Homo sapiens: one gene and its partners. The gene in region 3 interacts genetically with the main gene of each other region. Each region holds a gene or a part of one and is shown on either strand. Other genes may lie near its edges.

Region 1 (3,658 bases), on a different chromosome or scaffold from region 3:
AAGGTCATTAGTGACTTATGTCAGTAGTTTTAATGGAATGTTTAGGTGGAAGCCAAATTGAAGACAGATGCTCTTCTTTGAATTTTTAACATGTCTTTTAGTCTTTTTCCAAATAGATTGTAAGTTTTTTTGAGTGTCGGGTCTAGACCATACAATTCTTTCTTTTTTTTTTTTTTTTATAAATCCAGCAGTAGTATCATCAGAAGGCCATACAATTCTTCTGTACTTCCTATTATCATTCTGATCACATTCTGGGCCTCTAATAAGTATTTATTGAATTGAATAACATTTACTTCATATTTTAGGTCTGTTAGATTAATTACATTTGGGACAGGTCTGGGGGCTGGAGGGACCAAAAAGAAGTTCTATATATCTAGAAGGCAAAGGTAATCTCTATATAAAGTAATGTGGTATGAAGTTGATCTGTAAAATCAGTAGGTTCTGTATACTAAAGTATTAATTGTTAAGTCATAGAAACAATTTCTCAAAAGATGCTATATTCATCTTCAACTATGCATTATTTCCAAGTTACTAATCTTATATTCTAGTTGAAGACTGGGATAGTTTCCAAGCTATTTTGGATCATACCTACAAAATGCATGTCAAATCAGAAGCCAGTCTCCATCCTGTTCTCATGTCAGAGGCACCGGTGAGATAAAGATTTTCTTTTTCACGTTTCTCTAGTTGTTTTTTTTTTTTCTTTTTTTTTTCCTTTAGTTTTCTACTCATTTGATGAACATTTTTCTTTAAAGAGGCATAGAAATTCATATTTTGAATTTGAAAATTAGGGAAAAGGATTAATTTTTTAACACTATTATAACTTTTATTTTACTATTCCAATAAATAAAATATCCAGAGAACAACAAAACACCCTAATGGATTCTTGTGGTTATTTATGTATTTCTAGGGATTTGTTTAACATTTTATTTCCTAGGACTGCTTCCCATTTTGAATTATGAATCATTTCTTGTGCCCCAAGGGCAGCGTATATCTACTTTTATTCAAGTTTCCAAGAAAGAATTGAGATGTTGAACAAGGGCTGGAAATTTCTGGACCAAAGTCTCTTGTGAAATACATTTGGTACATAGACAAAAAGGTCCCAGAAAGCAAGCATAATGGTCATAAATTATCAGTATCTTATTGTTACTAACTTACAGTATTCTTTTATGAATACCAACTATAAGTGGGAGAATTTGGTGGTCTAAAATTCATACTTAGGATTTGGATTACCATATTTACTCTTTAGATTTAATAATATGTTTATAAGAATCCTGGTTTCCTCATATGTGGAAAAGTCAGGAGCAATTTTATTATTAAAGAATTTTAATTCTTCTCTGATAGATTTATTAAATTTAATCTACATCTAAAGAAATAAATATTATAGAGGTTTTTTTATTTTTATGAGATATTATGAAAGATGATTTCCCATGGTATTTTATTCTGTTCTTAATGTTTTATATCTTTGTTAATATAGTGCTAGATTTTATCTGGAGATAAATCAACTTTTTAATTCTTAATAACTTGCATTTCTTTTTCCCCTCTTCTCAAGTGGAATACTAGAGCAAAGAGAGAGAAACTGACAGAGTTAATGTTTGAACACTACAACATCCCTGCCTTCTTCCTTTGCAAAACTGCAGTTTTGACAGCGTATCCTTGAAAGAGTAATACCTTTCCTCTTGAAGTATGTACGATACTAATGAATATGATAACTCTGGGAGAAGACATACGCCAATTATTGCTTGTTCCGAAGTTGTTTTTTTCCCTTTTCTCTTGCTTTTTAGCTATTCATCTTTTAGTATTTCTTGTTAGAACTGATGATACACCAGAAGGTATGAGGGAAATAAAATAACACTCAAATTCTGAGTGTTAAGACGTTTTTGTTTTTGTTTTTAAGAAGGGGCATGTGGATAGAAGGCAATGTTTTAACCAGTTGGCTTAGGTGAATTGAAAGATTGCCATTTTAAAATCTCCTTCCCTTCCAATATCATAGAAAACTGGAAATTGGCTGTAAATTCATTCTCCTTCAAATTTAGTCAGTCATCAAATCCTGCCTGTTCTTCCCTGCTATTTGCTTCTCTCTGTCCTACTGCCACAGCATTAGGTGGAAGCTATTTCCAGGATTACTGAAGCACGTCCTCTTGTCTGCCCATTCTTTACGCTGTTGCTCTAATAATCTTTCTATTTTTATTTATTTATTTATTTGGTAGAGATGGAGTTTCGCCATGTTGCCCAGGCTGCTCTCGAACTCCTGGACTCAAGCGATATGCTTGCCTCAGTCTCCCAAAGTGCTGGGATTACAGGCATGAGCCACCGTGCCCAGCCTCTAATAATCTTTCTAAAGTGCTAGTCTGCTTTAAGCCAGAATCGTCTTCTACATTTCTTCCTTTATTTTACTTTCAGACCGTGCTGAGGTACTTGCAGTTCTCTGACCTCGCTGTGTTCTCTTGCTTCTTGGTCTTCCCACATGCTCCTACTCTTGCCCATATTCCCTTCCCCAGATTTTACTATTGAATATCTCAGGAATAGGTTTCCCTTTTACATCACCATCTTCCCTGGGACATCCTGAGCTTTTCTTTTTACAGCTTTATTCATCATCTACTTCACTAAACAGGATAACCTTCAGGGAAAAGGCAGTTTTGGTGCACCATTGTGTGTCTACTGTGTTAAAGGAATTTTAGTGCCAGGTGAGCAGCCTCCCTCCTTCCTCCCTCCCTCCTTATTAAGCACCAGACTTAGTAGACACCTAATAGATGCTCAGTAAATATTTGATGAATGAGTGAATGTCCCTACTCCTAAACATCAGTTTAGTATATTCAGGTAGTATAGGCCATCTGCAGCACAGAACTGTGGAAAATGGGATCTGCCAATATTTACCAACTGTGGAATTCACCTGGAATAGTTTTCCCGCTCATTGAGTTGGAGGAGATAGGAACTGCCATATGGCTGCCAAACTGCTGAAACAGCTCTTTTTCAATGCTATGTGAGAATGGTTATAGTCCCTAGCTCAATTATCACAACCTCCCACTGTTCTTACCAAGTTTCTGTATATTTTGTTAAATAAATGCATCTCAGTTTGTTGTAAGCTCTTTGATCAGTCTCCAGAGACTTTTAGTGATTGTGTTAATTTTGACCAGCTTAATAGTAGCTGTTCCTAGGATAAAGGTTTCCCTGAGTGCCTGATACCTCCATTCTGGAATTCCTGCCTCTTACTATTTGTTTTTAAGCCAGAAATATTATTTTATACCAATTTTTATCCCTAGATTCACTGTAATACATTTTTAACTATAAGGTACATGTTTAAGAAATAGTTTCTGAAACATTATAAGAGCCTGCCCTTTACAATAAACATTATTTTAGCGGCCTTGATACTTTCTTTTCCTTAATGTTTTAAACTAGATTTGCTAATGGTCGTTCTACTGGGCTGATTTTGGACAGTGGAGCCACTCATACCACTGCAATTCCAGTCCACGATGGCTATGTCCTTCAACAAGGTAAATGTATTTAACCAGGATACACTGAGATGATTTTAGATGCCATGAGGATGCACATAATGAAATAAAATGATGAGTAGCACTATTAAAGCATATCAGTTTCTGAATAAGATTTTTTTTAAGTATGTTAAAAATCTTTAGTATATAATGTATATTTAAAACTGATG
Region 2 (3,309 bases), on a different chromosome or scaffold from region 3:
TACTATCAGAGAAACAGAACAAGTGTTGAGGAGGATGCAGAGACATTGGAACCCTTGTGCCTATTGGTGGGAATGTAAAATGATGCAGCCACTGTGGAAAACAGTACAGCAGCACTTCCTCCAGAAATGTAAAATAGAATGACCATAGGATCCAGCACTTCCACATCTGGGTATACACCCAAAAGAATTGAAAGCAGGGTCTGAAATATGTGCACACCTGTGTTCATGGCAGCATTATTCATAATACCCAAAACACGGGAGCAACCTAAGTATCCACTGACAGATGAATGGATAAGCAAAATGTGCCATATCCATACAATGGAATGTCATTCAGCCTTACGAAGGGAGGACATCATGCTGAGTGAAATAAGCCAGTCACAAAAAGACATATACTATATGACTCCACTTATATGAACTACTCAAAATAGTTAAATTTATAGAGACAGAAAGTAGAATAATGTTGACAGGGGCTAAGGGAAGCAGAATGAGAAGTTAATGTTTAATGGGTATAAGATTTCAGTTTTACAAAATGACAAGAGTTTTTGGAAATGGGTGGTGGGGATGTTTTTCACCACATTATGAATTTATTTAAAATCACTGAACTATGTATTTTTAAATGGCTAAGATGGTAAGCTTTATGTTATATACATTTTACCACAGTAAAATAACAATGGGAGAAAAATGTTACCCAGGGCAAGACATACAATTTACACCTTTTATTTTTTTCACTAGTAAAGAAGAAAAAAATGAGCCACTTTCTCTGCCTGAGTTAACCAAAAGGCTTACCGAGGCAAATCAGAGAATGGCGAAATTTCCTGAGAGCATTAAGGTAAGAGTTAAAGCAGTTCATTTGGTAAAGCATCACTTTTTGTGTTATCACTTGACTATACCACATTCTTATAAAGGTCAGCTACCTCTCTGTTCAGTTTCTAAAATCTCTACCCATTCATATGTGCTTAAGAATTTAGAATCCAGGCTGGGCGTGGTGGCTCACGCCTGTAATCCCAGCGCTTTGGGAGGCTGAGGCTGGCGGATCATGAGGTCAGGAGATCAAGACCATCCTGGCTAACATGGTGAAACCCCGTCTCTACTAAAAATACAAAATATTAGCCGGGCGTGGGGGCAGGTGCCTGTAGTCCCAGTTACTCGGGAGGCTGAGGCAGGAGAATAGCATGGAGGCAGGAGAATGGCGTGAACTCAGGAGGCGGAGCTTGCAGTGAGCCAAGATCACGCCACTGCACTCCAGCCTGGGCAACAGAGCGAGACTCTGTCTCAAAAAAAAAACAAAACAAAAAAAAAGAATTTAGAATCCAATTACTTTGGTTAGCTAGAATGTTTTGTGAGACTAGAATTATCGATCACACAAGTAATTTTATACCTCAATCTTCAGAGAAACCAAATAGATTTAATAGGTAAGAAGTAAAATTTAAATTGGTGCCATGTATTAGATAGCTTACAGATGGACAGGTCTTTTTGGCTGTGGGCCCAAATATTAATAGAAGCACCATTTTTAAGGGTGGATTTGCATAGGGCTGTAGAAAGAGATTGTGCCATTGAGAAGGACATCGCAGTAGCCATCCTAGTTTTGAGTGTCATTTCTCCTTGGAGTAACTGTTGAAGAGAAAGACAGGACATTGCCTTAGGAGACAGCTGGCTCAGCTGTGTCCAAGAAGTGTCTATAGATGAACCTGAGTGACTGGTGCCTTCTGTGCAGGTGTTTGTGGCTCTTCTGCAAATGCTTCCTTATTCATCCTCATGTCATCGTCTTTCAGGCCTGGCCCTTCCCAGATGTGCTGGAGTGCTGCCTCGTCCTGCTTCTCATCAGGTCCCACTTTCCTGGCTGTCTGGCCCAGGAAATGCAGCAGCAGGCCCAAGAGCTCCTTCAGAAATACGGCAACACGAAAACTTACAGAAGACACTGCCAGACCTTCTGTATGTGAATTTTCACACACCTTGAAGAAACTGCCAAATTGAAAATGTTTGACATCTTTCACCTCTGCAGTTATGCCTCACCAGACATTCACTCTGGTCCCTAGATGTTTTTGCAGTAATCCAAAAGAATACAAACAAGGATTAAGTTTGAATCAACCCTGCCTACCCATAGACAACGGTGGATCTGACTTTAGACTCAATTGTGGTCTCCTACTGGAGGGAAGATCATGAAAAGCCCACAGTAGTTATTCAGAACTAACACCTGCAGAGTGTTGGTCATCTCTACAGCCTTAGGCAGGTTTCACCCAAAGAGGAGAAACTTCTGTCGTCACCCAAAGTGTTACATGCTTAAAACACAAGCTACCTTTGTAAATACTTCATCTGATCAGAAGTGTGTCATGCTTGTTTGAGATGGAGTTGCTGCATTTTAGGACTATTGATACCTTTTTTTAATTGTTTTTATAATATTTAATTTGAAAGAGGAGACCCTTCTCTCTCTACTCTTTCATAGACTGAAGTTTGAATATGAAATAGGCCTTAACCATCATGTTGACTCTCCTGTCAGAATTTTAGGTTGGAAATTTGGTTTTATTCTTTCATGTAATTGCTTATTTGAACAGATCACTTACTAAAGCTTTAGAAGAAGTGATTCAAATGTGTGTTTTCCCTTCAGTTTTATAACAAATGGATTGATGGCAGTCAAATAGCTCAGGAATAAATTACTGTTTCAATGGTTCTTAAACTTTCTTGGATCATAGGATCCTTTTGAGAATCAGATTAAAGCCAAAGATACTCTTTGGAGAAAAATGCATATTCCTAATTTTGCATAGATGACCTTTGGATTATTGGACTCTGACTATTGGGACCCTAAATACTATTTAATTATAAATCTTTTTTTTCTCCTCCTTGGTTATTTAAACAGTTGAACAGTGTCAGGAACAGATGTTTCTGTAATGTCACAGTTGCTAGCATGGGAAAATCAGAGTCTGGCATGGGTGTAGGAAGGAACACTCCTTTCAGATAATTGAACTGTTTTCTCTAGGATTCATTGTGAAGGCTTTTCTGCTCACGTTTGTAGTTTATTTTTCAATTAATTCCTAGGATTGGAGCTGTTGGGACAGTGAGAATGAAATTCATTTACAGGAAGTCCCAGGAAGGAGAAAGTTTGAGGCAGTTTTCAAAGACGTGTATGTGCCTAGCATTAGAGTTTAATAAACTCACAAAGGGAAATACTGTAGAATTTAGATCCTCACAGTTCTTCATACAGTGAAGTGAACTTTAGGAAGACGATGCTTTGTTACCAGGGATGGAGAATCTTTCTTGATTGCAAAGACATAAATAGGCATGGCTAGGTAGAAAACCTAGCCTAGTTGGTAG
Region 3 (3,658 bases):
GTGAGAATAAGCTCCAGGGTGGACGGATGAGGTAGAGGTTAATGGTGAGTGGAACCAGAACCTAGGTCTTCTGACTTTAGTTGAATAATTTTTTTCTACTGAACAATAAGATCTAAAGAGAATATTTTTTACTCATGGGTAGTATACAAATTAATTCAACCTGTGTAAACTTCTTGAAAGTTGTCAGGGAACTACTGTGTACTACTTGCTTTAATAATACAGCTTTTATAGAAATGGAAACCTAGCTTTCTCCTACGATGTGGGAGGAATGAGGATTAGAAGTCTGTTAAATAAATAGAATATACTTTACTTTTTACAGAAAAAGCTTTCTGTTGTTATTTAAAATACTCTTAATATTTGGCAGTTTGTAGCTCAGTCTTTTGTCTATTGTATTAGAAGAATTCCTATAAAATGAGAAGAACTTCATGTCAAAAGGATCTTGAAGAGGCATACCTGTACTTTTTAGTCTTCAACAAATCTTTTTAAATAGTTTTAAAATTGATTCTGAATTTTGATAGATATTTTCTTTCTGAAGTAGTATTCTCTACTTAGCACAGTAAAGGATATTTAGACTAGACTTGCATCTTAATTCTGTACTGGGGTAGTGATCGTAATAACTAGCCTTTGCTGAACTCTTCCTGTATGTACTTAAAGTGCAATATATCATGAATCCTCACAATAGCTTCATGTAATGGCTACTATTAATATTATATTCCTTTTCCTATTAAGAACACAGGCTCAGAGAGGCTGGTAACTTTCCCTGTGTCACACAGCTAGCAGATGGAGGACTAGAGATATGAACCACCAGACTTTCTATTTTATGTGTTTTAGCCTTCATGGTTTTTGCCGTATCTGCATACCACTTGTTTGTTTACTGTTTTATGAAATCACTGTATTTTTTTTTTTTTCCTGAGACGAAGTCTTGCTCTGTCACCCAGGCTGGAGTGCAGTGGCGTGATCTGGGTTCACAGCAACCTCCGCCTCCTGGGTTCAAGCAATTCTTCTGCCTCAGCCTCCTGAGTAGCTGGGATTACAGGCATGTGCCACCACCCCCGGCTAATTTTTATATTTTTAGTAGAGACGAAGTTTCACCATGTTGGTTAGGCTGGTCTCAAACTCCTGACCTTGTGATCCGCCTACCTCGGCCTCCCAAAGTGCTGGGATTACAGGCATGAGCCACTGCGCCTGGCCGAAATCACCGTATTTTTAAGATCATCTTCATTGTAAACAATACTGTGCATAAACTCAGAGTTTCAGTGTCTCAGTTTTTTCTAATATATATTAGCACAAATGTGTAAGTGTAAAAGTTTTCTTAAGTTCTTGGTGCCACCTAAAATCATCTCAAATACCAAATTTTGGGAGAACTTTCATTATTTATATATACATATATATATTTGCGATGGAGTTTCGCTCTTGTTGCCCCGGCTGGAGTGCAATGGCGCGATCTCAGCTCACCGCAGCCTCTGCCTCCGGGTTCAAGCGATTCTCCTTCCTCAGCCTCCTGAGTACCTGGGATTATAGGCATGCACCACCACGCCCAGCTAATTTTGTATTTTCAGTAGAGATGGGGTTTCTCCATGTTGGTCAGGCTGGTCTCGAACTTTTGACCTCTGGTGATTCGCCTGCCTCGGCCTCCCAAAGTGCTAGGATTACAGGCGTGAGCCACCGCGCCTGGCCTATATTGTATTTTTAAGGATAAACTTTTTTTTTTTTTTGAGACAGTGTCTTACTCTGTCACCCAGGCTAGAGTGCAGTGGCGTGATCTTGGCTCACTGCAACCTCCACCTCCCAGGCTCATGCAATTCTCCTGCCTCAGCCTGCTGAGTAACTGGGATTTTAGGCGCCACCACACCCAACTAATTTTTGTATTTTTAGTAGAGATGGGGTTTCACCATGTTGGCCAGGCCAGTCTAGAACTCGTGACCTCAAGTGATCTGCCCGCATCAGCCTCCCAAAGTTCTGGGATTACAGGCATGAGTCACTGTGCCCAGCCATAAGGATAAACTTTAAAATCGTGTCTTCCCTAGGAAATCACTAAACTTGCTCATGTTGCCATATTGCTAGTTCTGAAAGGCTAGTTTTATTTTGTTTTGTATGAAAGAATATCTGAAAAAGTAGAAAAGTTTGATATTAATGTTTCCCAAAATAATCATAGGTAGGCTCTTTTTATTCTTAACAAGAATTAGGAATAAAATTTTGAAGGTGTTGAAATTTATAGCCTAGCCAATTCAGTTACGGATTCTTTGTTTCATTGGAATGCAGCCTTTCAGTAGTCTATTGTCTGATTTAATTGACTGTTATCTGACAGGTCCTGGAGTTGTTAATTCACCGAGATGGGGAATTTCAAGAACTAATGAAATTGGCACTTAATCAGGGAAAAATTCATCATGAAATGCAAGTTTTAGAAAAAGAAGTAGAGAAGAGAGACAGTGATATTCAGCAGCTACAAAAACAGCTAAAGGAAGCAGAACAAATACTGGTAAGTTGACAGAGGTTGGTTCTTAAGGTTAAAAAGGATGTTGTTTAATCTGTTTCTGAAAAATCTGTTATCAATATTTTGAAGAGCAGAAAACTAGACTTTCCAAGTCTAAAGGTGATATCTTGTCACTCACCATTGCCAGTGGTTAAATGAAAGGCTATTGTCATTCTCTTTTTTACTTACTGTTTTCAAATAGTCTGCATTACTTGTGAGCCACATTTTCGATGCTTAAAGATTTTACAGTATTGAATTATAGAAATGGAAAGTTTTACTTTTATCCTGGTCTGATATAAATTTTAATTATCAGTAGTCTAAATCTCTCTTTTTTTTTTTTTGGTCTCTGATCCTTAGCATAAAAATCAGGGAAATTTTTCATTTTTTATATATTTTGAAATCAATAAAAATATATACACATTTTATAAATTGATTAAAATTGACATTAATTTAGTCATTCATCCTCATCTAGGTAGGATTTGGACATAGATCAAGGATCCTAGTTTTCCCTTTGCTGTTCTTGGCTACTATTTCAAAGAGGCAACTTATTTGCTATTATTTGCCCAGTTACTTCACTAAATACTAACTAATATAACATGATAGTATTGCAGAAATAGCTGAGCTTGATTCTCATGTCGACCAGACATTGCTGGCATCCTTACCACTGATTAATCTCTTAACAAATGTATTAAAATGAGCTCCAGTAACTAGAAGCCTGGGCAGTTCAGGGTAAATTAATCACCTCTACTAAGGAAACAACTCACTAGTAAATAGTTTTTAAAAATATATTAAAATCAGGCCGGGCATGGTGGCTAATGCCTGTAATCCCAGGGCTTTGGGAGGCCAACGCAGGTGGATCGCGAGGTCAGTCTGTGATTGAGACCAGTCTCAGTTCGAGACCAGTCTGGCCAACATAGTGAAACCCTGTCTCTATTACAAATACAAAAAATTAGCCAGGTGTGGTGGTGTGTGCCTGTAATTCCAGCTACTCAGGAGACTGAGGCAGGAGAATCGCGTGAACCTGGGAGGCATAGGTTGCAGTGAGCTGAGATTGCGCTATTGTATTCCAGCCCAGGCAACAGTGCAAGACTCTCAAAAAAAAAAAAAAAAAAAAAAATTAGCTGGGCACAGTGGCTCACACTTGTAATCCCAGCACTTTGGGAAGCCAAAGTGGGCAGATCACCT

The links.
Region 1: changes in MED4 (region 3) and ACTL6A together harm fitness more than expected from each alone (negative genetic interaction), as found in Homo sapiens cells (one large-scale study listed by BioGRID).
Region 2: changes in MED4 (region 3) and GEMIN5 together harm fitness more than expected from each alone (negative genetic interaction), as found in Homo sapiens cells (one large-scale study listed by BioGRID).

The regions. Positions count from the first base shown.
Region 1 is NC_000003.12:179,572,821-179,576,478, forward strand, and holds part of ACTL6A (actin-like protein 6A), read left to right. Parts: intron 1-548; coding exon 549-649; intron 650-1,549; coding exon 1,550-1,647; intron 1,648-3,396; coding exon 3,397-3,491; intron 3,492-3,658.
Region 2 is NC_000005.10:154,886,841-154,890,149, reverse strand, and holds the end of GEMIN5 (gem-associated protein 5), read left to right. Parts: intron 1-732; coding exon 733-829; intron 830-1,772; coding exon 1,773-1,940; 3' UTR 1,941-2,739; downstream 2,740-3,309. UniProt on the Homo sapiens protein: The SMN complex catalyzes the assembly of small nuclear ribonucleoproteins (snRNPs), the building blocks of the spliceosome, and thereby plays an important role in the splicing of cellular pre-mRNAs.
Region 3 is NC_000013.11:48,085,103-48,088,760, reverse strand, and holds part of MED4 (mediator of RNA polymerase II transcription subunit 4), read left to right. Parts: intron 1-2,308; coding exon 2,309-2,479; intron 2,480-3,658. UniProt on the Homo sapiens protein: Component of the Mediator complex, a coactivator involved in the regulated transcription of nearly all RNA polymerase II-dependent genes.